Regions from separate parts of the Homo sapiens genome. Here region 2 is linked to region 1. A link means that fine-mapping ties the variant in region 1 to the expression of a gene that starts in the linked region. Tissue or cell type: whole blood. Region 1 holds a variant in brackets; the other region holds the start of a gene. All regions are shown on one strand. Distances are between the middles of the regions.

Evidence for each region. PIP is the estimated chance that this variant, and not a neighbour inherited with it, causes the effect.
Region 2: it holds the start of MIER3, and the variant in region 1 is fine-mapped to the expression of MIER3 in whole blood (INTERVAL, PIP 0.94).

Annotation. Positions count from the first base shown.
Region 1 is chr5:56,775,987-56,784,093 of GRCh38, reverse strand. No RefSeq gene overlaps it. Among named protein-coding and RNA genes, the nearest start is that of MAP3K1, 36 kb to the left of the region's middle. The variant G/A (reference allele first, on the strand shown) is at 4,618.
Region 2 is chr5:56,948,988-56,957,094 of GRCh38, reverse strand. It overlaps MIER3 (MIER family member 3), which reads left to right and starts at 4,972. Exons shown (of 13, transcript NM_001297599.2): 1 at 4,972-5,001; 2 at 6,443-6,467. The coding sequence starts at 4,993. RefSeq lists silencers at 4,691-5,110, 5,141-5,250, 5,311-5,480 and an enhancer at 6,051-6,140.

The DNA of each region.
Region 1 (8,107 bases):
GATTGCTAAAAGAAAGTCCCAAAGAACAACACTAATCAGCTGAAATATAGTTATAACAAAGGAAGTCCAGAATTTGACTTCTATAGAACTGTTTTCCATTTGACAGAATATAAAGCAATGGAAAACAGATAAAATTATACATTATTTAGATGAAACCTATCACATTACATTGAGTACATCATTAGACTTGTAAAAGCAATTCTGCAGTTACTGTTTTGATTCAGAGGCTTTTGTATCTTAAGCTACACTAAGTACAGAAGCAATTGGTATGAAATATATACACTTTTTTTTTTTTTGAGACAAGGTTTTGCTCTATTGCCCAGGCTGGAGTGCTAGAGTGCAGTGGCATGATCTCTGCTCACTGCAGCCTCCACCTCCTGGGCTTAAGCAAGATACACATTTTAATAGAATGTGTATTTGAATCAAAGTGCCTTGAAGTTTTTCCAGCTTCAAATATAGGAGGAAACTTTTCAAGGTTTAGTTCCCATATCTCAGCGCTGATTTGTGCCACTCAAAATGAATAAAACATAGACTCTTGGTTTGAGTATAAACGTCCAACAGTCTTACAGTCTGGGTAGTTTGTGTTGTGACAAAGCATATTACTAATGCAACTGTTACCACATACAGTGGATTAAGACTGGATTAAAACCTGGATTCCACTTCAGAAAAGGCAAGTCTATTATCCATTCATTCATTCACTCATCTTTTTCTTCCCCTGGAGGTATCCAGGCTACATTTGTAATGAACTAGGTTTCCTGTTGATGCCAGAGCATAAGGCAGATTCTCTTTTTGTTTTGTTCTTTTTATGAGATAAAACACAAATTCCTGACAAGACGTATTATTTCCATAAACAACATTCCTTTCTTTTTCACCTTTTTTGGTTTCTGCAGGGTTTGAAATGCTCATGAGTGGGATAGTATTTCCTCCCTGAAAAGGCTTGGATAACATCAAGAGATAATTTTTTTTCTATATGTTGGTTAGCAAGAGAGAATTAGCTCATTAAGAAGAAAGTCTGTGAATATTTTTATTGTTAGGTGAGATTTTCATCCCTATTTCAAGGACATTCAAATTCCAATGGCTATCTAGTAAGTTGGGATAAATCCATCTATCCATCCATCCATTTTTAAAAATTGTTTTTTCTTTCATCCAACTATCCATCCAACAAGCGCCTACCACATACTTTTTAGGTACCAGGCACTGTGCTCAATACTGTTATGTAAATACAAAACTACTTCAGTCCTTGTTCTAAAGCAGTTTTCAGCTTAACAGGGGAGGCAAGTATTCAAAGCAACAATTACAATATAGTAAGATACATGCGATTATGCAGGTGTTATGGAAGCTAATGCATAGGCATCCTGATTACTTACTGATTAGCATGATAATACCTTGCCAGGCCTTCAGGTTTTAGATGAGCTAGATTCTAGCTCCAGACTGCCTAGGTTTAAATCCTACCCCTGATACTTGGTAATTGTGTAGCCGTGGACAAGTTAGGTGATCAGTCTGTACCTCAATTTCATCATCTGTGAAGTGGAGATAATAATTATACCTGTTGCATAAGGCTGATACCAAGGTAAAACAAGTTAATATATGTAAAGAACTGGAATTAGTAATATTTAGCAGTATTTACATACACTATGTAAATGTTAATTATAGAGGAGGTTCCAAGATGGCCAAATAGGAACAGCTCCAGTCTGCAGCTCCCAGCATGAGCGACGCAGAAGACTGGTGATTTCTGCATTTCCAACTGAGGTACCGGGTTCATCTCACTGGGGTTTGTCAGACAGTGCAGCCCACGGAGCAGGGCAGGGCATTGCCTCACCCAGGAAGTGCAAGGGATTGGGGAATTCCCTTTCCTGGTGAAGGGAAGCCGTGACAGACGGTACCTGGAAAATCAGGACACTCCCACCCTAATACTGCGCTTTTCCAATGGCCTTAGCAAATGGCACACCAGGAGATTATATCCCGCGCATGACTTGGAGGGTCCCACGCCCACGGAGCCTCGCTCACTGCTAGCACAGCAGTCTGAGATTGAACTGCAAGGTGGCAGTGAGGCTAGGGGAGGGGCGTCCACCATTGCTGAGGCATGAGTAGGTAAATAAAGCGGCTGGGAAGCTTGAACTGGGTGGAGCCCACCACAGCACAAGGATGCCTGCCTGCCTCTGTAGACTCCACCTCTGGGGGCAGGGCATAGCTGAACAAAAGGCAGCAGAAACTTCTGCAGACTTAAACGTCCTTGTCCGACAGCTTTGAAGAGAGTAGTGGTTCTCCCAGCACAGAGTTTGAGATCTGAGAAAGGACAGACTGCCTCCTCAAGTGGGTCCCTGACCCCTGAGTAGCCTAACTGGGAGAAGCCTCCCAGTAGGGGCCGACTGACACCTCATACAGCCTGTGCCCCTCTGAGATGAAGCTTCCAGAGGAAGGATCGGGCAGCAACATTCGCCATTCTGCAATATTTGCTGTTCGGCCACCTCGGCTGGTGATACCCAGGCAAACAGGGTCTGGAGTGGACCTCCAGCAAACTCCAACAGACCAGCAGCTGAGGGTCCTGATTGTTAAAAGGAAAACTAAGAAATAGAAAGGACACCCACACCAAAACCCCATCTGTACATCACCACCATCAAAGACCAAAGGTAGATAAAACCACAAAGATGGGGAGAAACCAGAGCAGAAAAGCTGAAAATTCTAAAAATCAGAGTGCCTCTTCTCCTCCAAAGGAACACAGCTCCTCACCAGCAACGGAACAAAGATGGACAGAGAATGACTTTGACGAGTTAAGAGAAGAAGGCTTCAGACGATCGGTAATAAGAAACTTCTCTGAGCTAAAGGAAGAGGTTCAAACCCATCACAAAGAAGCTAAAAACCTTGAAAAATGATTAGACAAATGGCTAGCTAGAATAAACAGTGGAGAGAAGTCCTTAAAGGACCTGATGGAGCTGAAAACCACGGCACAAGAACTACGTGACGTATGTACAAGCTTCAGTAGCTGATTTGATCAAGTGGAAGAAAGGGTATCAGTGATTGAAGATCAAATGAATGAAATGAAGTGAGAAGAGAAGTTTAGAGAAAAAAGAGTAAAAAGAAATGAACAAAGTCTCCAAGAAATACGGGACTATGTGAAAAGACCAAATCTACGTCTGATTGGCATACCTGAAAGTGACGGGGAGAATGCAAACAAGTTGGAAAACACTCTTCAGGATATTATCGCAGAGAACTTCCCCAACCTAGTGAGGCAGGCCAACATTCAAATTCAGGAAACACAGAGAATGCCACAAAGATACTCCTCGAGAAGAGCAACTCCAAGACACATAATTGTCAGATTCACCAAAGTTGAAATGAAGGAAAAAATGTTAAGGGCAGCCAGAAAGAAAGGTTGGGTTACCCAAAAAGGGAAGCCCATCAGACTAACATCAGATCTCTCAGCAGAAACTCTACAAGCCAGAAGAGAGTAGGGGCCAATATTCAACATTCTTAAAGAAAAGAATTTTCAACCCAGAATTTCATATCCAGCCAAACTAAGCTTCATAAGTGAAGGAGCAATAAAATCCTTTACAGACAAACAAATGCTGAGAGATTTTGTCACCACCAGGCCTGCCTTACAAGAGCTCCTGAAGGAAGCACTAAACATGGAAAGGAACAACCAGTACCAGCCACTGCAAAAACATGCCAAATTGTAAAGACCTTCAATGCTAGGAAGAAACTAACGAGCAAAACAACCAGCTAACATCATGACAGGATCAAATTCACACATAACAATATTAACCTTAAATGTAAATGGGCCAAATGCTCCAATTAAAAGACACAGACTGGCAAATTGGATAAAGAGTCAAGACCCATCAGTGTGCTGTATTCAGGAGACCCATCTCACGTGCAGAGACACACATAGACTCAAAATAAAGGGATGGAGGAAGATCTACCAAGCAAATGGAAAACCAAAAAAAAAAAAAAAAAAAAAAAGCAGGGGTAGCAATCCTAGTCTCTGATAAAACAGACTTTAAACCAACAAAGATCAAAAGAGACAGAGGAGGCCATTACATAATGGTAAAGGGATCAACTTAACAAGAAGAGCTAACTATCCTAAATATATATGCACCCAATACAGGAGCACCCAGATTCATAAAGCAAGTCCTTAGAGAACTACAAAGAGACTTAGACTCCCACACAATAATAATGGGAGATTTTAACACCCCACTGTCAACATTAGACAGACCCATGAGACAGAAAGTTAACAAAGACATCCAGGAATTGAACTCAGCTCTGCACCAAGTGGACCTAATAGACATCTACAGAACTCTCCACCCCAAATCAACAGAATATACATTCTTCTCAGCACCACACCACACTTATTCCAAAATTGACCACATAGTTGGAAGTAAAGCACTCCTCAGCAAATGTAAAAGAACAGAAATTATAACAAACTGTCTCTCAGACCACAGTGCAATCAAACTAGAACTCAGGATTAAGAAACTTACTCAAAACTACACAACTACATGGAAACTGAACAATCTGCTCCTGAATGACTACTGGGTACATAACGAAATGAAGGCAGAAATAAAGATGTTCTTTGAAACCAATGAGAACAAAGACACAACATACCAGAATCTCTGGGACACATTTAAA[G/A]CGGTGTGTAGAGGGAAATTTATAGCACTAAATGCCCACAAGAGAAAGCAGGAAAGATCTAAAATGGACACCCAAACATCACAATTGAAAGAACTAGAGAAGCAAGAGCAAACACATTCAAAAGCTAGCAGAAGGCAAGAAATAACTAAGATCAGAGAAGAACTGAAGGAGATAGAGACACAAAAAGCCCTTCAAAAAATCAATGAATCCAGGAGCTGGTTTTTTGAAAAGATCAACAAAATTGACAGACCACTAGCAAGACTAATAAAGAAGAAAAGAGAGAAGAATCAAATAGCTGCAATAAAAAATGATGAAGGGGATATCACCACCGATCCCACAGAAATACATACTACCATCAGAGAATACTATAAACACCTCTAAGCAAATAAACTAGAAAATCTGGAAGAAATCGATAAATTCCTGGACACATACACCCTCCCAAGACTAAACCAGGAAGAAGTTGAATCCCTGAATAGACCAATAAGAGGCTCTGAATTTGAGGCAATAATTAATAGCCTACCAACCAAAAAAAGTCCAGGACCAGACGGATTCACAGCCCAATTCTACCAGAGGTACAAAAAGGAGCTGGTACCATTCCTTCTGAAACTATTCCAATCAATAGAAAAAGAGGGAATCCTCACTAATTCATTTTATGAGGCCAACATCATCCTGATACCAAAGCCTGGCAGAGACACAACAAAAAAAGAGAATTTTAGACCAATATCCCTGATGAACAACAATGCAAAAATCCTCAATAAAATACTGGCAAACCGAATCCAGCAGCACATCAAAAAGCTTATCCACTATGATCAAGATGGCTTCATCCCTGGGATGCAAGGCTGGTTCAACATACGCAAATCAGTAAACATAATTCATCATATAAACAGAACCAAAGACAAAAACCACATGATTATCTCAATAGATGCAGAAAAGGCCTTTGACAAAATTCAACAGCCCTTCATGTTAAAAACTCTCAATAAACTAGGTATTGATGGGACGTATCTCAAAATAATAAGAGCTATTTATGACAGACCCACAGCCAATATCATACTGAATGGACAAAAACTGGAAGCATTCCCTTTGAAAACTGGCACAAGACAGGGATGCCCTCTCTCACCACTCCTATTCAATATAGTGTTGGAAGTTCTGGCCAGGGCAATCAGGCAAGAAAAAGAAATAAAAGGTATTCAATTAGGAAAAGAGGAAGTCAAATTGTCCCTGTTTGCAGATGACATGATTGTATACTTAGAAAACCCCATTGTCTCAGCCCAAAATCTCCTTAAGCTGATAAGCAACTTCAGCAAAGTCTCAGGATACAAAATCAATGTGCAAAAATCACAAGCATTCTTATACACCAATAACAGACAAACAGAGAGCCAACTCATGAGTGAACTCCCATTCACAATTGCTTCAAAGAGAACAAAATACCTAGGAATCCAACTTACAAGGGATGTGAAGGACCTCTTCAAGGAGAACGACAAATCACTGCTCAAAGAAATAAAAGAGGACACAAACAAATGGAAGAACATTCCATGCTCATGGATAGGAAGAATCGATATCGTGAAAATGGCCATACTGCCCAAGGTAATTTGTAGATTCAATGCCATCCCCATCAAGCTACCAATGACTTTCTTCACAGAATTGGAAAAAACTACTTTAAACTTCATATGGAACCAAAAAAGAGCCCGCATTGCCAAGTCAATCCTAAGCCAAAAGAACAAAGCTGAAGGCATCACGCTACCTGACTTCAAACTATACTACAAGGCTATAGTAACCAAAACAGCATGATACTGGTACCACAACAGAGATATGGACCAATGGAACAGAATAGAGCCCTCTGAAATAATACCACACATCTACAACCATCTGATCTTTGACAAACCTGACAAAAACAAGAAATGGGGAAAGGATTCCCTATTTAATGAATGGTGCTGGGAAAACTGGCTAGCCATAGGTAGAAAGCTGAAACTGGATCCCTTCCTTACACCTTATACGAAACTTAATTCAAGATGGATTAAAGACTTAAATGTTAGACCTAAAACCATAAAAACCCTAGAGGAAAACCTAGGCAATACCATTCAGGCCATAGGCATGGGCAAGGACTTCATGACTAAAACACCAAAAGCAATAGCAACAAAGCCAAAATTGACAAATGGGATCTAATTAAACTAAAGAGCTTCTGCACAGCGAAAGAAAATACCATCAGAGTGAACTGGCAACCTACGGAATGGGAGAAAATTTTTACAATCTACCCATCTGACAAAGAGCTAATATCCAGAATCTACAAAGAACTTAAACAAATTTACAAGAAAAAAATCAAACAACACCATCGAAAAGTGAGCAAAGGATATGAACAGACACTTCTCAAAAGAAGACATTTATGCAGCCAACAGACACATGAAAAAATGCTCATCATCACTGGCCATCAGAGAAATGCAAATTGAAACCACAATGAGATACCATCTCACACCACTTAGAATGGCGATCATTAAAAAGTCAGGAAACAACAGGGGCTGGAGAGGATGTGGAGAAATAGGAACACTTTTACACTGTTGGTGGGACTGTAAACGAGTTCAACCATTATGGAAGAAAGTGTGGCAATTCCTCAAGGATCTAGAATTAGCAATACCATTTGACCCAGCCATCCCATTACTGGGCATATACCCAAAGGATTATAAATCATGCTGCTATAAAGACACATTCACACGTATGTTTATTGAGGCACTATTCACAATAGCAAAGACTTGGAACCAACCCAAATGTCCATCAATGATAGACTGGATTAAGAAAAGGTGGCACATATACACCATGGAATACTATGCAGCCATTAAAAAGGATGAGTTCATGTCCTTTGTAGGGACATGGATGAAGCTGGAAACCATCATTCTGAGCAAACTATTGCAAGGACAGAAAACCAAACACTGCATGTTCTCACTCATAGGGGGGAATTGAACAATGAGAACACTTGGACACAGGGTGGGGAACATCACACACACCCCTGTCGAGGGGTGTGGGAAGGGGGAAGGGATAGCATTAGGAGATATACCTAATGTAAATGATGAGTTAATGGGTGCAGCACACCAACATGGCACATGTATACATATGTAACAAACCTGCAGGTTGTGCACATGTACCCTAGAACTTAAAGCATAATTTAAAAAATGTTAATTATAATTATCACCCCTACTTTTCAAAATGAACTTATCCATTAAAGCAGTAGTCTCCTAAGATGATCTGCTGGGAGCAGGAAAAAAATAGTAGAAATACTAGAAAATGAATTCCTACTTAGTTTTCCTTTTCTTTTTCTTTTTTTTTTTTTTTTTTTTTGTGACGGAATCTCGTTCTGTTGCCCAGGCTGGAGTGCAGTGGCTGGATCTCGGCTCACTGCAAGCTCAGCTTCCTGGATTCACGCCATTCTCCTGCCTCAGCCTCCCAAGTAGCTGGGACTACAGGTGCCCACCACCATGCCCCGCTAATTTTTTGTATTTTT
Region 2 (8,107 bases), 170 kb before region 1:
TTTCCTTCCCTTTTCTGAGCCTGTTGAGTTAAATAATTGCCTCTACGTGAAACAGTACAATTAACAGTCATTTGATAAGTCTTGGCAAAGGCTTTTTTGGTAATCTTCATCAAAATTGAAGTGAATTATAGTGATGAGCTATAATAGCTTTGTAAAAAATCCTCTTTCAAGTCAGGTAGCTTTTAACTCTTAGCTTTCAACAAAGTTGAAGGAACACATTTAAAACATCAGCGTATAGATCATTAAAAATAATGTTTGATAGAAGATCATAACATGATGTATTACTAAGGAGATATTACTAAGGAGATCAACAAATTGAGTGATGGTTTAGTAACAAAACCCTTCCATTTCTATCTATTTGTGTATGAATATGGTTTCTCAAACCTTACTTCTGTATAAATAAAGACTAAGAATAAAATTGATGTTAAACTCCCATTCTAGCATTAAGTAATATTCATCCATGGGTACATGAATTAATTTTTAAAGATCCTATTCATCTTATCAATAGATTGATTTCCAATGCAATTTTTGTTCAAAAAGCTTTACTCAAAACTTGTAATACATGTATATTGCTTAGATCAAATGTAAATTAGTAGTAATTGTACTGATAATTCAATCTGGAGGAAAATTATTTCTCTTTACTATCAATTTACAAGGATATTTTTGTTGCAGATAAAGATTGTAGGGTATCAACAAAAGACTTCTAAGCATAAAGCATATTACACTTCTTTGGAGAAAGTAGAATGGGAATATGAGTTCAAGGAGAAAAAGGAATCATGTAAAATTTCATACCATTCAAGAAACATGTTTATGTCTTTTTAAAAGAATAATGAAATATCAAATTGTTATGGTATTTAGATTCCATTGCATACATTTTAAGTGTTATATAATGGCTTTATTTTTAAATGACCATCATTACGAAAGGTAAGTACATCCTTTGCAGCCATTTAAATTTATAATGACAAAATTAGAAGTCAATTGGAATACATAAGAAGGGATAGAGTTATTACAAATTCTTTTGAGGATGTTCCTGCAATTTAAAGTCATTGACTTGGAAGTTCCAATTGGGTATGCTTGCACAGCTATGTCAGCCTGATGCATCCATCTCATTTTAAGAATGGCCCTGACTCACAGGCTGGATATATGTTCATGTATATGGACCAAGTTCCCTTCTTAGAAACGAACTGAAACCTTTTTTGAACTGTGAGAACTCTCTCTTTTTTAAAGTTACCATGCAGATCATCTTTCTTTTGTTAAGAATCTTTTGTTTAGGCAAAACTTACTATGATCAGTTAGCTTTCTCAGAGAGTGGCCATTCATTCCAACAAAAAATATTTAATTGAATATCACGCAGGAGAAGTAGATAAATTTAGAAAAATGCAAGTAGTTTGGCCTGATGCTGGGTCTAACTGTTGGCATTACAGTCTTACAAGCTATGCTGAGAAGTAACGCTAAGATGATGTTCTAGATCAGGTTCGCAAACTGGAAGCTCCCAGGCTAAATATGATTTACTTAACATGATTTATTTGATCTACACTGTGTTTAAATTTTTAAAAAATTAGTTGACAAAATTTTACGACCAGGAGATATAACATAAAAATTCAGTTTTCCAGCTGTTCTTGGAAAATTGAAACTGGAAACATTGGGCCAGTAAGCTGAAACTGACCCAAGTAGTGCATAGTGGTTTCCATCTTTAAGTAGGACACGTCTCCAAATTTGCTATTACTCCTGCGTTTGTCTACACTAGCCTGCTTCACTCATTCATTATGCCTGCCTGACTACTATGGGCATTTGAGATTGAGACATTAACTTTGGTTTATTAGTTTCCCATGGGTTAGATGGAATCTGCAGAAGCCTAAATATCTATGTTGCATTACTGTGGCCCCATTAACTGCTTTCAGTAGGTCATTCATATTGTGCTCTCAACTTTCATAGACAGTTACCAAAAGAATTTGTATATTTCTCCTACATTTGTATGCTTCTCCAATGAGAAGCAAGCAACTGATTACATTCACCTTTTTTGCTTTGGCTGCCAGAAAGCTCTACATTTATGGCTTAACTATTGTATTGTGTTAATACCTCATAACCTGCAGATCCTTGTCCTTACTTTTTCTTTGGTGTTAACCTCCTAGTCTAGTTAGTTTCGTTGGTCCTCATTTTTTTATATATGTTTTTTTATTTTATTGTATGAATTTACTGGAAGCCTCTAAAATTACATGTTTATAAATAAAGCTGTATTGATTTATTTCCTTTCTAAAGATGGTTGGAGGATCTATGACATTTTGGTTCTCCTTAGGAGGTTACTATGGTTTTTAGTTTTCCTTGCTCACATATCCATTTACCACCTATGGAAATTACTTAGATTGTAAGCTTTTGGGGGACAAGGACATTTTTATGGTGGTCCCACAGTGCCCAGCATCTAGCACTTTCTATATAATGCCCTGTATTGCATAGTTACAGGATAATAAAAGTAAAAAGTAATAGTATTTTAATTTAAACTCCTTGGGTCACAAGGATTTTTAATCTGTACTGACTCATGAAAGTCTTGTCAATCAGAAAGAATGAGAGCTCCATCTACATATAGACTTTACACACTTTATCATAAAGGAATGTGTTATGTAAGACTGAGTGATAAACTTTCTCTAGTGATCAGGTGGGGGAAAGTAGCTCTGCTACCTTCAACTGCTAATAAATTTAGCTTCATTTATCTTTGTCTGAATCCTTATTTAATACCATGGACTCAGACTTCCTACACTACGTTCTATAATAGGGAGCATATAACAATCAAAATTACAAATGCCTATACAAAATCTTTACAATTGAATATAAAGAAAGTCTACAGAAACATTACTAGATTCATGAAAGTGAATAAATCTGTGTATATTTCAGTTATGGCAAAACATATAATCTAAGACTACATTTATAGTTTGGATTAGCCAAGTTTGCTGGGAAGAAAATGTTTTTCCCAGTGTAATGTATGAGGCAGGTTGTTGGAGACACTTTCTTCACGTGGCTCAGACTGCGGTCCAGCTGCTCAGGGCACTGTTTCATGGTTCTGTCCACAGCGCGTGCTCACTGCGTCATTTCTAAAGTTATTCACTTGTACTTAATTTCAAGCCATTTTTTTTTACTTTGAAAACTCTGAACGCCTCATTGAGGACAGTACATACAATGTGTGCCAAGGTCTGGTTTCAAAGTTTAGCTGTTTTTGAGTTATTTGACTGGACAAAAGGTCGAAAGATATCTTTCACAGCAGGGAAAGTGTAATTTTCCATGTCTTTATGATGTTTAGAAATAGTTGGAGTGATTTTTCCCTAAAATTTCCATAAGTAAATAACTTTTACCCGTGGCATAAGCTTGATTTTGAGATGCCTTGGCAAAAAATTTGAAAATAACCCTCTCCCTACCTCCAGTCTCCAGCCTCATCCTCAGTATGCACTCCAGCAATAAGGGAATTGGAGGGACCCCAGGTTAAAATCAAGACCTTTCATGTTTGGATTAAAAGTATGACGTATGGAAAGTTTTAGCTTCTAAAAACTTGTCTTTATCATTTAATATTACGTATGTTTTAGAAAAAAGCTGGGAGAAGAGCTCTGGTGTCTGAGATCACTCTCTCCAAATTCCTGTAGGGTCCTGCTATAATTCCTGATGGTATTTGCATCTCACTTATTCATGTACCTTACAGCCGACTTTCTTTTCCACAGATAGAATTGGCCTCCCACTTTAGGACAATGTGTCCTCCAAATTTGCTAGGGCAACTCCATACCTTACTTTAACTTCTTGCAGGACCTAACTCTCCAATCAGTCGTTAGTGTATATTTTTGTGTACTTGGCTCAAAGTCTTTCAGTGTGGATGTGGACCTTCCGGAGAGTAATCTCCTCCAATGAAGAGCAAATGGTCATAAGGAACATGTACGAGCAGGTATTCCTGTTAAGCCTTATGCTCCGTCTTTCACCCATCCACTTGCACAGGGGACTAGTTTCCTTTTATGATCCTACCCAAACGTTTGGCCTTTTTGGAGAAGTGAGGGAAGTGAGGGGTAGAATTTTTGAGACTCAGTTCAGGGCCTTTGATATGCTGTTCCTGTCCTTCAACAGATGTATCAAGTATCTCTGGGTCATCCCCTAAGACACGTTGGTGATGAACAATTCCTAGAACTGGTCTAATTTTTTTTTTTTTTTTTTTGGATAACAGCACAGTTTATATTTTTTGGGCATCTTCTTGAACTGTACAAGTATATTCAGCATCATTTCTCTGCCCTGTCGATCTTTTGTCTTTTCTTCTGTGCTGTCAATAACCTGTTTGGCAAATGTCTACTTCCATTGTCCACTCCGTGAGCAGTGTACACCGGTCTCCATCTCCCATTCCTGCAGGTCCCTTCGTGGAAACGGCAAAGTGCCTGACTGTAGTCCTCTCATTCTGGACTGACTCTGCCATCCACCAGCCTCTTCTCCCATTTCCCAGGGCTTCCTCCCACATCTGTCTATTTCATAGATCGCCTCCTCCTCTTAGGGAAGTTGAGTCTGTCGAGTTCCCCTGCACATCGCCTGCCAGTCCAAGTCTCCTGCCCGCCTCCCGCACGCCCTCCCGCGCCGCGGTGTCTGTGGGTCGGTTCCCAGACGCGCCCGCCGGCTCTTGGGCCTCCACTGGCTGGACGTGGGTCTGTCCCGCGCCCGCGCGTCCGTCCGTCCCCCACTTGCCTCCAATTCGGCAGGAACTTTACACCAGCCAGGAGGAGAAGGACGGTGCGCGCGGGTGCGGGTCTGGCCGGCTGGGGCCGGCGCGGGGGCGGCGAGGGGCGCCGGGCGGCGTCGGCTTGCGAGCGGGCCGGGGGCGTCGCGGGCCGCCCTGCCCTATAAGGGGCCGTGCCGCCTCCGCCGCCGGGCGGGTGCCGGGCGGACCGCGGCGGTGGCGGCGGCGGCTGCGATTGGCTCAGGCGCCCCATCCGGGGACTGGGCTCGGCGCTGCTCGTTCGCCCTAAAGGTACCAATATGGCGGAGGTGAGCAGGGAAACCGGGCAGGAGCAGCCGGGCTGGAGCGGGCGCCCGGCGGCTCCCCGCGACCCCCGAGCCAGCCTGGGGGATCCGGGGCTCTTTCCGCTGCCCCATGAGGGGCGGCGTGGCGACGCGGGGGTCGCGGGGCGGCGACTGGCCGTGGCGGGGCTGGCCGGGGGGCGGGAGCGGGCGCGGGAGCGGTCTCCCTCCGGGACTAGGCCGCGGCGGCTCCGGCCCCGGTCGGGCCGGGCGACCGAGCCGGACGGAGGTGGCGGCCGGCTGCAGTGAGCCCTGCCCCAGGGACGAGGCAGTGCCGTGTCCCCGGTCGCTGACGCGGGCCGCCGGCGCCTCCGCGCCTCTTCCCCGGGCCCGGGTGGGTGGAAACCGGCGGAGCCCCCCCTCCGCGGCCGGATCGCAAAGAGGGGAGCGGGCTGCGCCACTGCCCTGCGGGAGTCGTGCGCTGTGCCCCCGGCCCACCGGGCCCGGGCTGCGGCGCGAAGGAGCCGCACGCTTCACTTTGCTGGGGGCGCGGAGAAGAGCGGGATGCGGGGCCACCGGGCTTCTCAGAAGAGCGGGACTCCCCACCCCGCAGCCCGGGAGGTGCGGGAGCCCCTGGGGTTAAAGGGCAGACCGAGACCCTCGACGCCCTCTCCAGGAGAGCGGCTTGATAGCTCCAGTTTTCTCTGGGCTGGAGGAAGGAAGGCTGGGCGAGCGAAGCTGCCCCGGCCATGTCCCCCGGGACTGGTGAGCTGGGGGGAGGGGGCGGTGTGGCAGGAGCCCCTGGGCTGGAGCTCGCTGGGGCGGGGGGCGCGCTGACGGTCCAGGGAGGGACTGAACACTCTGGAAGGAGCCAGCATCCCTGGAACTGAGAGGAGCTGCATCTCTGGACTCGAGAGAGAGGATGGGGGGCTCGCGCTTTGGTTTGGGGGCGAGTGTCCGATTCGAGCTGGCCTACGCTGCAGGGGAAGAGATCGGCTTCGGAGTTGGGGCTCCCGGGCCCCAGGGGCGAACTAGGTGCTCAGAACGCGAGTTCGTTCCAGAAAAGGGTGTTACGTTTCGAGTTGTTTGGGGCTTCGGAGAGCCGGGTGGGATTTGGAGGACTCCGGAGATGCCAGGGATGGGGGACTGATGGTGCCAGCCGACTGCTCTGGGTTTTGCTTCTCTGCTTGGAAACTTGCTGAGCTCCAAGAAGCGACTTGGAGTTGCCTCTCAGACTCCGGGCTTCGTCCCGGGTCTGTGAGTTTGTACACTTGGGACTCGGGGAGGAAGGCGAGGCAGCCAAGAGGGGGCCCGAAAGGGGCCGGGAGCGATTCGAGTGAAGCTACGTCTTGCACTTTTGGCAGCTGCGGAGGAGCGCTCGACTCCGCCTCCTCTGCGCCCTGTTGCCGGCGCTGCCTCTTTCCCTGGCTGTGCGATCTAACCTCACGTTTTCTTCTCTCTCTCCTAGGCTTCTTTTGGAAGTTCGAGCCCAGGTTTGTCCTATTTTCTTACGTCTTCGGTGGTTCCCAGTGGGTAATGTGGGCTCAAAGGTCTGTTGCTAAAGGATTCCCAATAGAAATGTATCCTGCAGGTTTTTCTTCATTGATTTTTAAGAGTTTCAGTGTGCATTTAGTAAAGTTTGGGGAAGAAACAGTTATACTGTTCTTTGTTTTCTCTTGCATGTTGAAAAAGTAACTGTTACAAAGTTGCTAAGACAAGCGTTCTTTTAAGGAATATGGCTTTAATTATTACATATCTTATTTTTCCTCCGAGCCTGAAACAGTTAATCCCAAATTAACTTGACACCAACTTTAGCAATTTAGATTTTAACTTCGGTTTCTTCTAGAGATTGAGTAATTTGTCAGAACTCTGGGACTACTTCACTAACTGTAACCCCTCATCTCCTCTTACGTTGTTTCTTTTTCATAATTAAATGTCTATGAGTTGTGTTAAAATTGGAAGTTGAGAGGTAAAGCTACCTTAATAAAAAAGACAGAACTTCCAAGTTTGGCACAGAAAAAGGGTGATTTTGACTTCTGAGCTGAGACGATCTTAGGTCATCTAGTACAGTGTTTCTTAACTTTCCTGAGGTCAGAAACCCCTGTCAGGATCTAATGAAAGCAAGGGATGTGTCCCAGAACTCTGCACATATGCATAATTACACACAATCTGGGGTTTGTAGAATCCCTGTAGCAGGTCCATAAGGACCTTTCCTCATGTGCTAATCATGTAAGGTATCTTTGTTTCAGTTTCTCATTTCCTTTCTAGCTTACCTCTTTGCTGTCTTCCCTCTCCTAGTCTACAGGAAAAGCACCTCTGAACTAGTCCAACTCCATTATTTTACAGTTGAGGAGACTTTTAAATAACTTTCGTTAGTGGTGGAGCACAGATGAGCTCCTAAATCTTCCATTACAACTTGTTTCCATAGAGTGAATAGTCAGTTTCCTTACACTATTACTTTTTGTATCTGCTCCACCTTCAGAGCCTCACTTGACTGTCATTTAAGGTATTATAACACCAAGTAGAAGAAATTTGCAGCTATTTTAAAAATAGCTGTCTATATCTTTAAAATTCTAAAAATTTTTGTTAATTTTGAGATGAACTTTTTTGTTATAACTGATTTTAGGAAAATATATACATGATGTCAAACAGCTGGATTAATGGAATTTTTCCATTTGGTATCACTGACTTCTTTTAAGAAGTTGCACTCTAAATAAGCCAAAAGACAGTGTAACCTGTTTTTAATCAATTAGCCTCTTTTTGTTTTTTGTTTGTTTGTTTGAGACGTTATGCAGGCTGGAGTGCAATGGGGCAATCTCACTGTAACCTCCGCCTTTGAGGTTCAAGCTGTTCTCCTGCCTCAGCCTCCCAGGTGGCTGGTACTACAGGGATGCGCCACCACACCTGGCTGATTTTTTTGTATTTTTAGTAGAGATGGGGTTTCACCATGCTGGCTAGGCTGATCTTGAACTCCTGACCTCAAGTGATCCGCCTGCCTCGGCCTCCCAAAGTGCTGGGATTAATTAGCCAGTTTTTTAAAAAGAGAATTTTAGAGTTGGAAGGGACTTTTGAGGTCCTTTCAGTCATCCCCATGTATTTTGCAAATGGAAGACAGGAGCTAGACCTAGAAAGT